2 separate regions of the Homo sapiens genome follow, and region 2 is linked to region 1. The links come from fine-mapping of genetic effects on gene expression. Tissue or cell type: whole blood. Region 1 holds a variant in brackets; the other region holds the start of a gene. All regions are shown on one strand. Distances are between the middles of the regions.

What was found. PIP is the estimated chance that this variant, and not a neighbour inherited with it, causes the effect.
Region 2: it holds the start of KLHL7-DT, and the variant in region 1 is fine-mapped to the expression of KLHL7-DT in whole blood (TOPMed, PIP 0.91).

The regions. Positions count from the first base shown.
Region 1 is chr7:23,163,825-23,171,933 of GRCh38, reverse strand. It overlaps KLHL7 (kelch like family member 7), which reads right to left. Exons shown (of 11, transcript NM_001031710.3): 8 at 5,996-6,236; 9 at 3,897-4,098. Among named protein-coding and RNA genes, the nearest start is that of NUP42, 14 kb to the left of the region's middle. The variant C/T (reference allele first, on the strand shown) is at 3,510.
Region 2 is chr7:23,102,433-23,110,541 of GRCh38, reverse strand. KLHL7-DT (KLHL7 divergent transcript) reads left to right here and starts at 4,839. Exons shown (of 3, transcript NR_046220.1): 1 at 4,839-4,983; 2 at 6,225-6,292; 3 at 6,964-8,109. It overlaps KLHL7 (kelch like family member 7), which reads right to left and starts at 4,757. Exons shown (of 11, transcript NM_001031710.3): 1 at 4,396-4,757. The coding sequence starts at 4,515. RefSeq lists enhancers at 3,811-3,890, 3,596-4,582, 4,371-4,650, 4,771-4,960, 4,583-5,569.

The DNA of each region.
Region 1 (8,109 bases):
ATCGAGACCATCCTGGCTAACACGGTGAAACCCCGTCTCTATTAAAAATACAAAAAATTAGCCAGGCGTGGCGGCAGGCGCCTGTAGTCCCAGCTACTCAGGAGGCTGAGGCAGGAGAATGGCGTGAACCCAGGAGGCGGAGCTTGCAGTGAGCTGAGATCACGCCACTGCACTGCAGCCTGGGCGACAGAGGCAGACGCCGTCTCAAAAAACAAAAAACAATTTGATGAATTCAACTTTATAAAACATAATTAAGGCACAATGATTAACTCTGAAGTATTAACAATTCTTTTGTCTTACATTTATGTATTGTTTTAAAAATGGTTTGACAGTCACCACTCTCATTTTCAAAGTTCTCTGTTAAGGTGAGGTGGACAGCATGGCTCCTGTTTTTAGGAAAAACACACACGCTCATCCAGGTGAAGTGACCGGCATACAGCTCGGAAGTGGGACAGCAGTAAAAACTAGGTCTTCACTGCCCTGCACGTAGTGAGATTTATAGACTCAGCTATCATCATGCATTAAAACACAGTATTTGACTTGGAAAAATTCCATTTACATACCACTTTCTTCTCCAAATATAATGTTAATGATATAAAAAGACAGCATGTCTTTATGTATATCTAAATCTCCTGAAGGTTTAGAAAAAACTTTCACAAATTCCCCTTCCTCCTATAATTCACATGCAGAGTACATACTAGGTCCCCGCTATCTGCAATCTGAAGTTTAATGTTTAGAAGCGTTTTTTCGCCTGTAATCCCAGCACTTTGGGAGGCCAAGGTGGGCAGATCACAAGGTCAAGAGATGGAGGCCATCCTGGCCAACATGGTGAAACCCCGTCTCTACTGAAAATACAAAAATTAGCCCGTGTGGTGGCGTGCGCCTGTAATCCCAGCTACTCAGGAGGCTGAGGCAGGAGAATCGCTTGAACCTGGGAGGCAGAAGTTGCAGTGAGCTGAGATCGTGCCACTGCATTCCAGCATGGTGACAGAGTGAGACTCCGTCTCACAAAAAAAAAAAAAAAAAGTCATTTCTTAAAATTCTGACCGCTCAAACTGTGTCACATTGTTTCCATAGACATAATTTCTTTCTTTCTTCAGTTACTTTATTATGAGCTTCTGCTCCTCTCCATCTTTTTTAAAACTGATTTTAAAAATGTGATACATAATACATGTACATATTTTTATGGTACCTGTGATATTTTGACACATGTATACAATGTGTAATGATCAAGTCAGAGTAACTGGGATATCCAGCACCTGAAACATTTATCTTTCCTTTTGTTTCTTTTTGGGCTAGGGAAGGAACCCAGGCCTCCCATGTTGCTGCTGAGGAATATCTTTTCTTTGTGTTGGGAACATTCCAATTCTTCTCTAGCTATTTTGAAATATACAATAAATTATTGTTAACTATAGTCTCCCTACTGTACTACTGAATATTAGAACTTATCCTATCTAACTGTATTTCTGTACTTGTTAACCAACCTCTGATAACCATCATTCTACTCTCTACCTCCATGAGATCAACATTTTTAGCTCCCACATGAGTGACAACATGTGTTATTTGTGTTTCTATGGTCCATAGGCTTAGTTTTTCAGCTTCCAATTAAACACATTCTAATTATCAAACACTTAAAATGTCAAAATTGGGAAGAAATTCTTATTAAAAAAAACTTGGCTGGCTAGATAACTTTTTGTTTTTATTTTTGTTTTTGTTTTTGAGACAGAGTTTCGCTCTTGTTGCCCTGGCTGCAGTGCAATGGCACGATCTCAGCTCACTACAACCTCCACCTCCCGGGTTCAAATGATTCTCCTGCCTCAGCCTCCTGAATAGCTGGGATTACAGGCACGCGCCACCACGCCCGGCTAATTTTTTTTGGTATTTTTAGACGAGACAGAGTTTCACCATGTTGGTCAGGCTGGTCTCGAACTCCTGACCTTAGACGATCCACCAGCCTCGGCCTCCCAAAGTGCTGGGATTACAGGTATGAACCACCACACCTGGACTAGGTAACATTTTTAAAAGGAAATAATATAACATTTATTTTGAGAGTTGGATAATTATATTCACACTAGCTTTTCATTTGTGAAAATTTAAGGGCATTGAAGGGAACATAGAGAATTCAAATTTAAGCTCAATATATATAAAATGAAAGAAATGCTAGGTCTTGTAAGTTTTTAAATATTCCTGAAACTGAATATTCACCTAGTTTTAAAAAATACAGAAGCTGCAGAACTCCTTTATATTTTTACTTTGAACAAAAAAGTAAGTAAAAAATCAATATTAATTTACATTGATAGTGCCTGAATAAAGATGTAAAAATTTAGAAACCTAGAGTTTTTATGGTTATGGCTTCTCTTTTAAGAGATTTTTTAGAAATAAAAAATAATTAGCAGAATGAATCAGTTTTCCAACTAGTATGCTGTAACACTTTTTGAGCCTAGGGTTTATGGGAAGTAAGGTAGAGGTTCACATAAAAGGGAGCAAAGTTGGTAAACATCTTTAGCAAAAGACAAATTTCAAGACAACTTGCTTTTCTATTATTTGCACTGGAAAGAAGTTATTGATTATGCTTCCTTAAATCTTTTAAAAATATGTGGGAATCATAGATAAATGCACATAATTAATCATATTTTATAATTAAGCTCTTATTTTTTTATTTTTTATTTTTTTTTGAGATGGAGTCTTGCTCTGTCACCCAGGCCGGAGTGCTGTGGCACAATCTTGGCTCACTGCAACCTCCGCCTCCCAGGTTCAAGCAATTTTCCTGCTTCAGCCTCCCCAGTAGTGGATTACAGGCACGCGCCACAACACCCAGCTAGTTTTTGTATTTTTAGTAGAGACGGGATTTTGCCATGTTGGCCAGGCTGATCTCATACTCCTGACCTCAAGTGATCTGCCTGCCTCAGCCTCCCAAAGTGCTGGAATTATAGGCATGAGCCACCATGCCTGGCATCTTATTTCTTAATTTTAAAAAAAGCAGTAGCTGGAGTTGAAGACTTCCATGTTTTGTAGTTTGGCAATATTTCCTAAATATAAAACTTTAAGCACGAGAGTTTTGATGCAACTCTGGCATAGCATTTTAGTGAACGTATTCACCCAGTAACTTGTTCTAGTAAGGGAAGAACGATGGGCAATCCAGCCATATGATCAAGTGACTTTTCTTATCAAAGCTCTTTGGATGTTTCCATAAAAGGTACGACTAGGGTATCATCTGTTTTATGTCCTCATCAGCTTTAATGTCACTACTCACAACCCGTGCCCTCATGCCCTCTCCATTATTCAATGATTAGCACATTTCCTTTGGCTACATTGAATGTGTTCCATCATTAACTACAAGGTCAGAAAAACTGGCTAACCAGTTATTTCTTTAGCATTTTACCTTTTTGACACACTTTGCCTTTTTAAAAGCAGTTGATTTAAGAATAATTTTATTTAATAAACATGAATCTAAATGTACTTAGGAAGTTTACACCTAAAAAGAACTAGGGAGGCATGATTTATTAATG[C/T]CATGAGCCAATATCTAATATTTCTACTTAAGGATAAATTTATTGCTGGTCATAAACTCCCCCCTCCTCCTCTACATTTCCTGACCGCTCAAACAAAAACATTTTATGAGTTGACGAATCAATCAGATGTGTCTCATTCATAGGCATTTATTGCACGCAGAACCAGAAAGAAAGAGGTTCCCATGGGGTGTAAGTTCAAGCCATTTCTGGTGTAAGGGAAAGGTCCAGGTCATAAATATGCCACTGACCCTAGCACACTCAAAAGTTTATATACACTCTTCACTCAAGGACAAAATTCTTCTGTTGGGTTCCTCTGGTCTTTTGACATCTCCTACAGAGCTTATAGAATACAGTTAACTGTAAAATAAATTTTAAATAGATACATACGTTTCTGTGGCAGGATCATAAACTTCACAGGAATTAAGCACTCTCCCAGAAACATTGTTTCCTAAACTTCCACCACAAACATAGATTAGGCCATTGGCTTCCACCATCCCATGGCTGCAGCGCTGGGTCAGCATGCTGGGCTTTGTGTGCCAGCTTTCAGTTCTCGTATCATAGCACTCAAATAAATACAGAGCTGAGTTTCCTGTAAAAGAAAAAGGCCCCATCATGCTTAACTTTAGTGTGTGCGGGGGTTTGGAAAGAACTGACTGTAGATCTTATTAGTTAAGGAAGGAAGAATTTAGGGTCATACGGCCATTTTCATACTCAATCAACAACAACAAAGTGTAGGAATAGTTTAAGAAAACGCTAATAATCCTGTTTGTATAGACCCTGGAAAACATCCTTAAAAGGATCTGTTGGAAATACTTATTTATTGGTAATTAAACTTTAGAAAAATAAATTTGATTTCAAAAGAAAAATTAAATAAGAAGCCTTATATATGTCTTCAAGCCCCATTATGCATGACGGGAATTATCCATACTTCAAATGTTTATATAAAGTGGAAAAGCATAATAGTTCCTTACAGATGGTAGACCCATACCTTAAAATATGAAAACTACTATCTGATCATATTCTTATTTAATATTCTGGAATAGCTACAGCACCATTAACAAAATTATATTTCCTAACTATTCTCAGTTAGTGTGGTATATCCTGAAATCACACTGGTCCCTGCTTGAGTATATTCTCAAAATATTGATGTATATTTCTGATGTATTTTGATTACACAATTTAAAGGCAAAACATACATTCATCATGTTTTGAAACTTCTACACACTGTAGGAGTTCAATAAAAAATTTTAGAAATGATACTATTAAAGTTTAAGTGCTTTTTTTTTTCCTTCCCAAGGACAAAAAATTTTAGAAGTTACCAAACTATTTCTCATCTCCCACCATTCTGGGCTAATATCAAATGATTTAAAAACGACAACACCTTTATAATTCTGCGTTGCAACTAAGGTCTGTGAAAAGTAAAGATCAGAAAATAACAACTAGAAGAAGCAATGGTCATGACCAAAAATAACTTATTTTTAACTTTTTAAACATTCCTGATTTGGTAGGTTCAGTGGGTGGACACTATAGGAAAATATATAGTATATAGTAGATTAAAAAAAAACTACTACTTAAGCTAAAAACACACTTAGCAAAGGCTGAAGAAATGAAGTTATCTGCAGTACCACAGAACAGTTACCGTCTATCATCTTTAGGATTTATTGTATTTGAAATATTCTACATTATAACAGTCTGTGAAGAATGCTTTTAAAGAGAGGAAATGGTTACATTTAGGAAATAGTGATTTTTCTTGTATTCATTTGACATATAGTTGAGGGTAAAAACATAAGTATGCAGACCAAAAGTATAACCATTTACGGTCTCCCTAGTTTTCTTTATTAGCCCATTATTTAAGCTAAAGAAATTACTTGAAAATGAAAGCATACAAAAGCTATTATGTATCTAGCCTGCACCTATTCATTTAGAAAAATTATTCATTTAGAAAAAGAGCACTACTGGACACTAACACACTATCCAATAAGGTTTTTATATCCACACCCACATCCCATTCTGCTCAATAAGCATAAATACCACTACAGTCATTAAAAACTTAAAGAATAAAACAAATGAAAAAGAGCATTCTTTTTTCTAATAAAAAGAAAGCAAATATAATACAAATTTTAAAAGCCTGAATATAGTAACGAGTTCTTAAAGAGTCTATAAGTTGAACTCTGAAATCTTTAAAACAAATAATATTATGCAGCCCAAATAATTTAGAACTATAATTCAGATAATGTCAACTAATGCTTCATTATGATAAAAAAAATGGGCCATTAATCTAGGAAGCTAAAGTTCTGTAATTTAATGGTTTGTAAAGCAACGACATAAACCTTCAGGGAGATGAGCTCTAAAATGTGACAAACACATATTTAAATTACCAAGAAAGTATCTGGACAAATAATACCAGCTGTTTATTTAAATATGAAAGCCAAGATACTTGGCTTTAAAGCATATGCCCCAAACCAAAATACTTAAGAAGTCCTTACCTACTTCTGAACCTCCAGATGTATAAATTTTGCCTTCTGCAGCACATGCAGCAAGGCTGTCTCGAGGTGTCGGAGGACCCAGTTTCGAATACCAGCTATCCTTCACTACATTATAGCAGTCCATTCGCTTTATTGGGAAAAGCTGAGAGCCTCCCAAAATGTATACTACATTGTCCCAAAACACGCATGCTGCATCTCTTCGTTTTTCAAAGGGGCAGCGGATGTCTGTCCAGCTATAATCCTGTAGCAGAAAAGGATGGGAAGCTTTCAGTAAGGAAAAAAATATAACTGAAAAGGACAATGCAAAGATACAGTCAAAAAACATATAAGAATATGTTAATTTATTAGACTACACATACAAATGTTTGGCTTGAGACTATTACCAATTTAATCTTGTGTGGTTTCTGCAGAATGTTGATTAGATGGGGCGGAGGGCAAAAGGCAGGCACATGACTGCTTTGGGTCCTTTCTGGCTCTAAAATAAACTTAAATATATTTGGATATACCATCACCACCCTGTCTTCTATTCCTTCTGTTATTGAAGACAATACAAGAAGATTCTAAAATAAGTTGTTTTATTTTTTAAAAAAGCTTTTTCAAATGTAAAGGTCTCCATCCCTTCCCTGCCAGATATATAGTGTGATATAAGTAATCAATGGATAATATGAAGCTCAAATTGCCATTATCCTACTGATAGTCTAAAGCCAGAAGGTATTTTGTGGACTTCTTTATTAATTTTCTATATTGAGTTGAGCCAATGTAGTCAGCTGGACTTTAAAACTGTTGATGTTTATAAGGAAATACTTGAGTAATCTCTTCTAAGTACTCTGGATACTCACTTTTCACCCCAATGATTAGAAATACACACCTATCAGTACTTGACAGTAAGGGCTGTTCACAGCATCTGTTTCTTCACTATGTTTGATAGCATCGAAGAATGCTTGTGCCGCCCTTCCATGTATGTGCATGGGGGGATGCCCCTAAAGTTATAGTATCTTGGACCCTCTCTTTTTTTGAGATAGGAAGCTACAGCGTTCCTGCTATTTTCTGAAAATAATCAGGGTCAGATAGGAATTCATACCATTCCCAATCTCACCAAGGAAAGCACTATGTGTGATTATTGAGTTTCCTTCGAGAAAATCTGACTGATAACCTATGATCGTATCCAGTGTTTCAGGCATTCATTGGATTAAAGTATCACAGAACATCAGGAATGGTCTCTTAGGAAAGGAAGAGCCCCTAATGTAGAATACTTTGACTCCTGACAAAGATGAACATTTTGCTTTTTAGGTGACCAGGAAAATAGAGCCTTAATAGCTTAGGATGTTATTCTCTAATTAATATCCCCGTAGGTTACTCAGTGGTGGGCACACAAAACAATGTGATAAACATAACATGTTCGTGAAACTTCAATTCCACTCAATAAACACTTGAAAAACTGGGGGAAAATATTTTCACTTGTTCTCTTAGAGAAACTGTATACCACAGAATGAAATAAAGAGATAAAATAATGATCATATTGTACAGGGAACAATCCCTCAAAGATAAACTAAATCATTCTCTTAAATGTTCTTCATATCTACTCATAATACCTATCTAATCAGGTTTATGTAGCAGAGAATTACAATTTCATTAACTGCATTAACTCAGTGAATCTCAAATCTTGTCACTCTTACCCCTAATTTATTTGACATTTATTACTTGAGAGCTATATGGGAATTTTTTTTTTTTTTTGCTGATTATAGTACCTAGATACTGTATGTAGTTGGCGGGGGGTGGGGTGGGGAAGAATAGATGGGAAGTCAGTCTTGTCAGCTCAGTGGCTATGACTGTTGGGCATTACCCTAGTGATGAAACTAGTTCCAACCTGGGCTTGCAGGTGAAGGCAGTGCTATTTATTGCTCCCTGCAATAGGGAAATCTACAGGGAAATCTAGAGGAATATGCAGTTCTCATGTTAGCAAGAAGATGGACAAATAACAGTAGAGTCACAGATGGGACGGTATATGTGTGTGGGCAGGGTCAGGGAGCTGTTACCCTAAAAATATGATTTAATTCACTTAAGTTTTACTGAGTATCTATTCCATGCAAGTTCTTATACTTAGGTGCTGAGAT
Region 2 (8,109 bases), 61 kb after region 1:
GGGTATGTTGAGATTAAGAATGGGTTTGCTGGTTGTTTGGTTCAAAAGCTGGAGAGGTTAAAACAAGCTTAAGTGCTAATAGCAAGAATCCAGCAAAGAAGAAAAGTTAAAGATGCTCAACAAAGATGGAATAACCAACAGTATAATACTTCTGAGAAGCCCAGCATCCAGGAAGCCAAAGCCTAGGTAGAAGTACTGGCCTTAGAAAAAGCAGCAGCATCTCCATTGTAGCAGGATAAGAAGAGAAAAGGGAAAGTGTCAAAATAGGTTTATAGATCTGGTGGTAGAAAGTGAAAAGGTAGACAGTTCTAGACTAATGACTTCTATTTATCTATGGTGTCAAAAGAAGGTGATCTGCTGAAAGTGAGGATCTAGAGAAAGGACTCAGATTGGAGGAAAATAGTAAAACAAAAAGATTGCTCACGGGCACTGATAGTCTAGTGGAAATTAGTGGCCAAGCACTTACTTGGCAGAAGTTGCCCAGTGAGATATTTTCCAGCTGTGCTTGGAGCCTTGCACAAAGAAGGTAATCAGTCATCAATACTCAAGTTTGCCAGATGGACATGAAAAAGGGACAGAGGGTCAAGAAAACTGGGACACTGGAGAGACAGTGGAGTGACAATAGCTTCTAAGCTGGACAGACAGAAAAAGAAAACAGAAAACAGTAAAGTACAGGAAAAAGAATAAGAAGGTCTGGATGACTGGAATTGTCAATGAAAGTTAAGAGAATTAAATGAGACAAAGCATGTAAAACACTCTGCAGAGTGGCTGGAACAGTTATAAGTGCTCAAGAAGTCTTATTAATATCAAGGGTTTAACACTGAAGGTTTAGATTATTCACAAGAGAACCTAAAGATAATGACATGTAGTAATTTACAGTCAGACAGATGAGAATACAGAAGCAAAGTCATTTTAGCCGGAAGGTGAGCCCAGTTAACTGCCCAGTATCTAATTGTGAAATCAGCTTTGTAGTTCTCTCACATAACTCTCAATAAGGACTTTAACATAAGCTTTCAAGTTCCAGTTATGCTTTAATTCATTTAATGTGGAGAAACTATAAACTATGGTGGTACTCAGGAAGGTCTTAAAACATCTTCCTCCAATGTTAAGAGACTCCTGGACTTCATTAACACAAAAGAAGAGTATGGCAACAGCAATGTGCATGTGCAATAGTGACTGTGACCCAGACCTGCCTTGTAAAGCCTCTATTTTACATATCAGGTAATAACATTAATCTAAGCAAAAAGTTAAAGAAATAAATGAAAAGGTACTCAATCCAATTAAATAAGATGCTCCTATACACCCAGTTAGAATGGCTAAAGTGATAAGACTGACAACATCAAGTGATGGCAGGGATGCGGAGCAAAAACCTCTCTCACACACAACTGGCAGAAGCGTAACATGGTACAATCACTTTGGAAAACTACACGACGATATCTTTTAAAGCTGAAGGTGGTATAGCTTATGACTCAAAAATTCCTGTTTGGTATTTCCCAACACAAATATTAATACATACATATGCATACCAAAAGGCATGTACAAAGTGTACAAAAATGTTCAAAGTAGTACTAGTCTTAATAGTTCCAAACTAGAAATAACCCAAATGTTCATAATGATAGAATGGATAAATTGTGCTATATTCATTCAATGGGATACTATATACCACAAGGATGAAGTAGCGCTACACACAGCACAGATGAATCTCACAAACAATGTTGGCTTTAAGAAAACAAAACACAAGAGTTTATGCCATATGATTACATTTATATAAGTTCAAACACAGGAAAAACCCACTTTTTGCCGATGTGCTGCAGACTTTCATGAATGCACCACACACCAAAGACAGAACAAAGAGCTCCTCTTAATAACAGGGGTGCATAGTGCCCTTAGAAGATGGCATGGCATGGTATTTATCAATGGTTGCTTCTGCTCTAACTTCGATGGTTACAGAGTTAGAATAGTTGTTACTACTGTGGGGTTGGTGACTGAGAAGGGCATAAGGGGGGACCTCTGGTGTACTGGTCATGTTCTCGTCTTGTTGGTGGGATGTGCACTTTGTAATAATTGAGCTATACATTTATGATTTGTGCCCTCTTATATGTATCCCATACTTCACTGGAGAGTTTACTTAGAAACAAAAGGCTAGAAATGACAAAAACAATGTAGGAAAAGGCTTTAGAAGAAGCCGAGGCTGCTGGCTCTGCAGAATCCCCTTTTGCCTCTATGTATAGAATCGGCCACTATACTACAGAGAGATGGAATGACCCAAATCATGTTATCTAAAATAACAAAATGAAATAATGAGAGAGCAGGATTGGAACTGAGGTATGCTAATCTCACAATGTTCTCAAATTCTTGAAGGAATGTTTCTGGATGTTTACAGAGGGGTCCTTGTCATCTAGGCACTCATTATCCTGATCCTTAAAGCAATGAGATTGTAAAGGGATGTAAAAGTAGTCATAACACAAAAATATTTACTAAAGAACAAGAGCACTTATAAAGTTGGTCCTCACTCAAACATTCCTACTCTGGCTCAGACCAGCCACTGTTTCTGCCAATTCCCATCAACTGCCCTTGTCAGTCATTCTCGGTCAATTGTTTCCTGTGTTATGATGTTAAACAGGACAATACAATATAACCATAATGTAAATCAATTGCGAAGTGAAACTGCACATCTTGCAAAAGATGCATGATTCCATGAAGTTGATAAAAGTGCTATTGGAGAACTGTTTGAATCACATGCCAAACCACTGACAACAGGAGAACCTGGCAGATTAAGGTCAGTTAATCATTGTGGAGGGGACCCCTGGTTGTTCACCAGGTAACCATTTTTTCCTTCCTACTCAGTAACAGAACCCTGATTTTTCAGTAATTGTACTTCTATTGTAACGGTAAATAAGTGATGTTAATATACTCCAAAGCTAAGAAATGTGAGTCACTTTTTAAATCCAAAGAGCTAAACGGACAGTCTCAGATAATCCTCTGCTCCTCAAGTAAATATTTGCTGCTGCAATCCAGTTTCACCCTATTTAGGGATTAAGGCAATGCTTTACAATGCTATGATCCACGAATGAAAACATATATTCGAGGGAGTGGGAGGGAACCTAATGAGTCTTCAACGAGTTTAAGCCCTGGTTAACTATGTTCAACTACCATTACAGGCAGGCAATAGCTAAATGCACCAGCAATTTGAAGTCTGTGGTATTGTAGATACAAAAAGGTTTACATGAAAGGAACATGAATTTGAAAATAGATACATGAAAGTCAGTTACATAAATTAACGAATTCAGGCATTCACAGTACTTCAGCACAAAGGCCAGGCCAGGAAAGATTTAAAAGCATTCCCACAGACTGCACTGGTGCACTGTAGCAGGAGCTGGTGAACAAAGACAAAATCCCAGCAGTCAGCGTTTGCTTATAGAAACCAGAAGTTAATATCTTCATAAAAATCTTAAATTCCTCTACTGTTGCCCATATTCCCAGCAGAACCACCAGACAAAGCAAACTAGGTTTTGCAGTTACACATAACTCACATCCTGCTTTGTCCCCTTGAAACAGGATCCCAGTCAACAAAACCCAAACATTCCCACAAATCTACTTAGATGTGTATTATCTATAAATAAAGCTTACAGAAAGGAAAAAGTGACTTTCTATGCTTATCGGTGTAGATGTTATGGAATTAAAAAAAAAAAAAGCCTCTTTGTTTCACCTTCGCCAGCGTTAAAATCCGTTCTTTTCATAACCCACCTTTCGCCGATGTGCTGCAGAATTTCACGAATGCACCACACACCAAGGACAGAACAAAGAGCTCCTCTTAATAACAGAGGCGCACAGTGCCCTTAGAAGATGGCATGGTATTTATCGATGGCTGCTTCTGCTCTAAATTAGCACGAACAGGAGGACTCCTCTTCAACTAGCTCCACCGGGGAACACAGGAGGGGGCGGGGATCCTTATTTAAGAGCAGCTGATGTCAGGCCAGCAACTCTCCTCCCTTTGGGGGCTTCGGTTTGGGCTATGCCAACGGGTTTCTTCACACAAGATCTCACGGCACCTTAAAACGGCTCGCCAATGGAAGGATCCTCGCCCCACAAAGAGATAACTAGGGCAGAGCTGTTACACAACCGATACCCGACGGCGAAAGCCAGCCTGAGGAGTCCCCCAGGAGTCTGACTTGGGAGCTACATCCTCGGCAGACGAGAAGCACTTTTGCTCGAGAATTGTTTTACGCGCCCCTCTACCAACTGCGGAATCGCTCGCCTGCGAAAACGGAAGGAGGGGCGAGGACAGAGAAAGAGGGGCGCGATCCACAGGGCGCGGGGTTCCACCCCGGGAACCAGGGGCCCGAGCCCCGGACCACCTCCCACCGTCGTCCGTCACTCCCACAGAGGCGGTACCTGTTTCCGCATGTTATTCATGACGCCCATGAAACCCGCCAACAATTTAGCTTCTTCCCGAGCAGCAAGTTTCTTCTCGGTCTTCTTCTTGCTGCTCTTCTCCACCCCAGAGGCTGCCATCCTCCCTCAGCTCGGTTCACGCCCGGGGCTCGCCGGGCCGGGCGAGGGGTCGCACTCTCTGGGCACACTGGGGATTCTATCGACCAAACACGGCGATCGGCAGTGCAGCTGCAGCGCCCAGCTCTGGAACGCGCGGCAGGCGGCGGTGGCTCGGCCACTGCCGAAAGACAAGGCCGGGCGGCCCCCTTAGAAACGCTCAGGGAGCGACGCTACCAACTGGGCTGCGTCCCCGGGCAGAACCCGAGCCCTGCCCAGGAGCCTGCGCACTTCGCGCAAGGAGGCGGGGGCACTATGAGGAGAGTCAGGGGCGGGGCCTGACACGTCACAGTGGCGCGCCGTTCCGAGCAATGAGACTGCAGGCACAGGTGCGGCCGGATTCCCTGTCGCTGTCCCGCGCTGAGTGAATTTTGCCTCGGAGCTGGTCCGAGGTCGCGCCTGCTCTTTTGTGTGCCCAAGGCAGATTTCCAGGTTTCGGTTACGTGATTATCTTTTTTTTTTTTTTTTTTTTGATAATTGGGTTGTGGAACATGCAAAGGTGTCTCCCATCAGTGTAAGGCTTCATGGGACAGGGTCGGTGTTCAGTGCAGTATCTGAGCCTGGTGTATGGTAGGCGCTCAATAAATATTAAATGATGAAAGGATATTACTGCAAGTTAAAGTCATGTTACACGGAGCACAAGATTTATTTTCGTGGGATTCATAACGCAAGAGCACACAGTCCCGTTGGTGTCTCCTTGGCGTGCAATGAATGTCTGCCTAACTAGGCTGGCTTACTGTGTGTTTACAACTGAAATCAGTTGTCAGTCGGTTCTAGAAATCTTCAGTTAGGCTTCTCTAAGTGTTTTACGGGAACACGGAACTCAATCACAGCCCTCATGGAAATGTTTTTTGTAACCATATTCTTTCTACTGTATAGTAATATACAGGATTATTTGAAATTGTACATTATTTAACATTATGAAAACTTTATATCTCATTGGTTTTCCTCCTCGGTCTATATAGGACTATACAGAGACATTTTATGTAAAATAATTTACACCATTGAGGCTTTTTTTTTTTTTTTTGGAGGCAGGGTCTCGGCCCTGTCGCCCAGGCTGGGGGTGCGGTGCAGTGGCTAATCATAGCTCACTGAAGCCTCAGCACTCCTGGGCTCAAGCAATCCTCCCATCTCAGCCTCCCAAGTAGCTGAAACTACAGGCGTGCAACACCACTCTGGGCTAAGTTTTAATTTTTAAATTTTTTTGGTGGTGGTGGTGGTGGTGGTGGTGGTGGTGAAGAGGTCACACTATGTTGCCCAGGCTTGTCTCGAACTCCTGGTGTTATGCAATCCTCCCGCCTAGGCCTCCCAAAGTGCTGGGATTACAGGAATGAGCGGCCAGGCCTGGCCCACAGTATACTTTTCTTGTTGAGGACAAACCATATAGCATAATCCAGATGAAAGAGCAAGCTATATATACGCCTCAATTTTTACAAAAGAGTAAGATACTTATGTCTCTGTACTCTTTATCTTTCTTCTATTAATCTAGAGGTTCTCAGATGTGCCTCTATTTTAACTAGTTGATTTGGGGATTTCAGGTGAACCCTGGCAATAGGAATAATTTATTGTTAATAAAATTATAAATGAGAAAATTTTTCATTCACTTTATTAAATGACCCAGGACACTGAAGAAAAACGGAATAAATTTTTTTCTTTTTTTTTTAATTGAAAAGAAGTAGAAATCTGTCTTCTAACTCTAAGGCCTTGGGAGATGAAGGATCCGTGATTCAAAGGCAGAAATGTAAGTGATGAAAAAGAATGCTGTCCTGTAATAAGGCAAAAAAGAAACGAGGAACAGCATCCTTAGTCCTTGATGTTAGAACAGTCTTTTTACATATTGCTGAATATAAAACATCAAAGTTCATGGAAGAGCCATAGGATTCAGAGCTCAAAGAGGCCACAGAGATTATATAGTACAGGGATTAAGCATGAGACTTTGCCTGGATGCAAAGTCAAACATCTCAACTTTCTAGTTGTGCAACTTTGGGCAAATTGATTAACTTCTGTTATGCCTCAGTCTCCTTATCTGTGAAAGTAGAACCTACTACATGGAACTGGCGTAAGGTTTATAAAAATGCTTAGAGGGGTGCCAGCACAAGACACTTAAAATTACTTTACTGAGTTAATAATACACACATACTTCAGAGATATTTTGGGTTCTGTTCCAGACCACCACATAAAGTAAATATCGCAGTAAAGTGAATCACACAAATTTTTTGGTTTCCCAAAACATATGCAAGTTATGTTTACACTATACTGTGGTCTATTAAGTGTGCAATAATATTATGTCTGCAAAAGCAATGCACATACCTTAAAAAGTGCTTTGTTGCCAAAAAGTTGCTAATGATCATCTAAGCCTTTGCAAGTTGCAAGTTTTAAATTTATTTTTATTTTTATTTCTTTTTTTTTAAGAGATGGAGTCTTGCTGTGTTCTCCAGGATTGAGTACAGTGGCTTATTCACAGATGTGATCATACTACACTACAGCCTCAAACTCCCGGGGTCAAGCAGTCCTCCTGCTTCAGCCTCCTGAGGAGCTGGGACTACAGGCCCACATCACCATGCCCACTAGATTCACAGTCATTTTGCTTGTGGAAGGTCTTGCCTCAATGTTGATAGGTGCTGACTGATCAGGGTCAGGTTGCTGACTGATCAGAATGGTAGTTTCTGAATGTTGGGAATGGCTATGGCAATTTCTTAAAATAAGACAACAATGAAGTTTGCTGCATTGATTGACTCCCTTTCACAAAGGATTTCTCCATATCATGCAATGCTGTTTGATAGCATTTTACCCATAGTAGAACTTCTTTCAAAATTGGAGTCAATTCTCTCAAACCTTGTCTCTGCTTGGTCAACTAAGTTTATGCACTATTCCACATCCTTTGTTGTCATTTCAACAATATTTACAGAGTCTTCACCATGAATAGATTCCTTTTCAAACAACCACTTTCTTTGCTCAGCCATAAGAAGCAACTCTTCACCCATTCAAGTTTTATCATGAGATTGCAGCAATTCAGTCACATCAAATTCCACTTCTAATTCTAGTTGTTTTTCTATTTCCACCACATCTGCAGGTACTTTCTCCACAGAAATTTCAAACCTCTCAAAGTCATCCGTGAGGGTTGGAATCAACTTCCAAATTTCTGTGAATGTTGATATTTTGACCTCCTCCTAATCACAAATGTTCTTAATGGCATCTAGAATGGTGAATCTTTTCCAGAAGGTTTTCTATGTGCTTTGCCCAGTTCCATCAGAAGAATCACTGTCTGTGGTAGCTCTAGCCTTATTAAATGTATATTTTAAATAATAACACCTAAAAATCAAAATGACTCCTTGATCCATGGGCTGTAGAATAGACATTGTGTTAGCAGTCATGAAAACAAGATTAATCTCCTCATATAGCACCATTATAGCTCTTGGGTGACCACGTGCATTGTCAATGACCAGTAATATTTTGAAAGGACACCTTTTTTTTTGAGCAGTAGGTCTCAACAGTGGACTTAAAATATTCAGAAAGCTGTGTTGTAAACAGATGTGCTGCCAGCTAGGTATCGTTGTT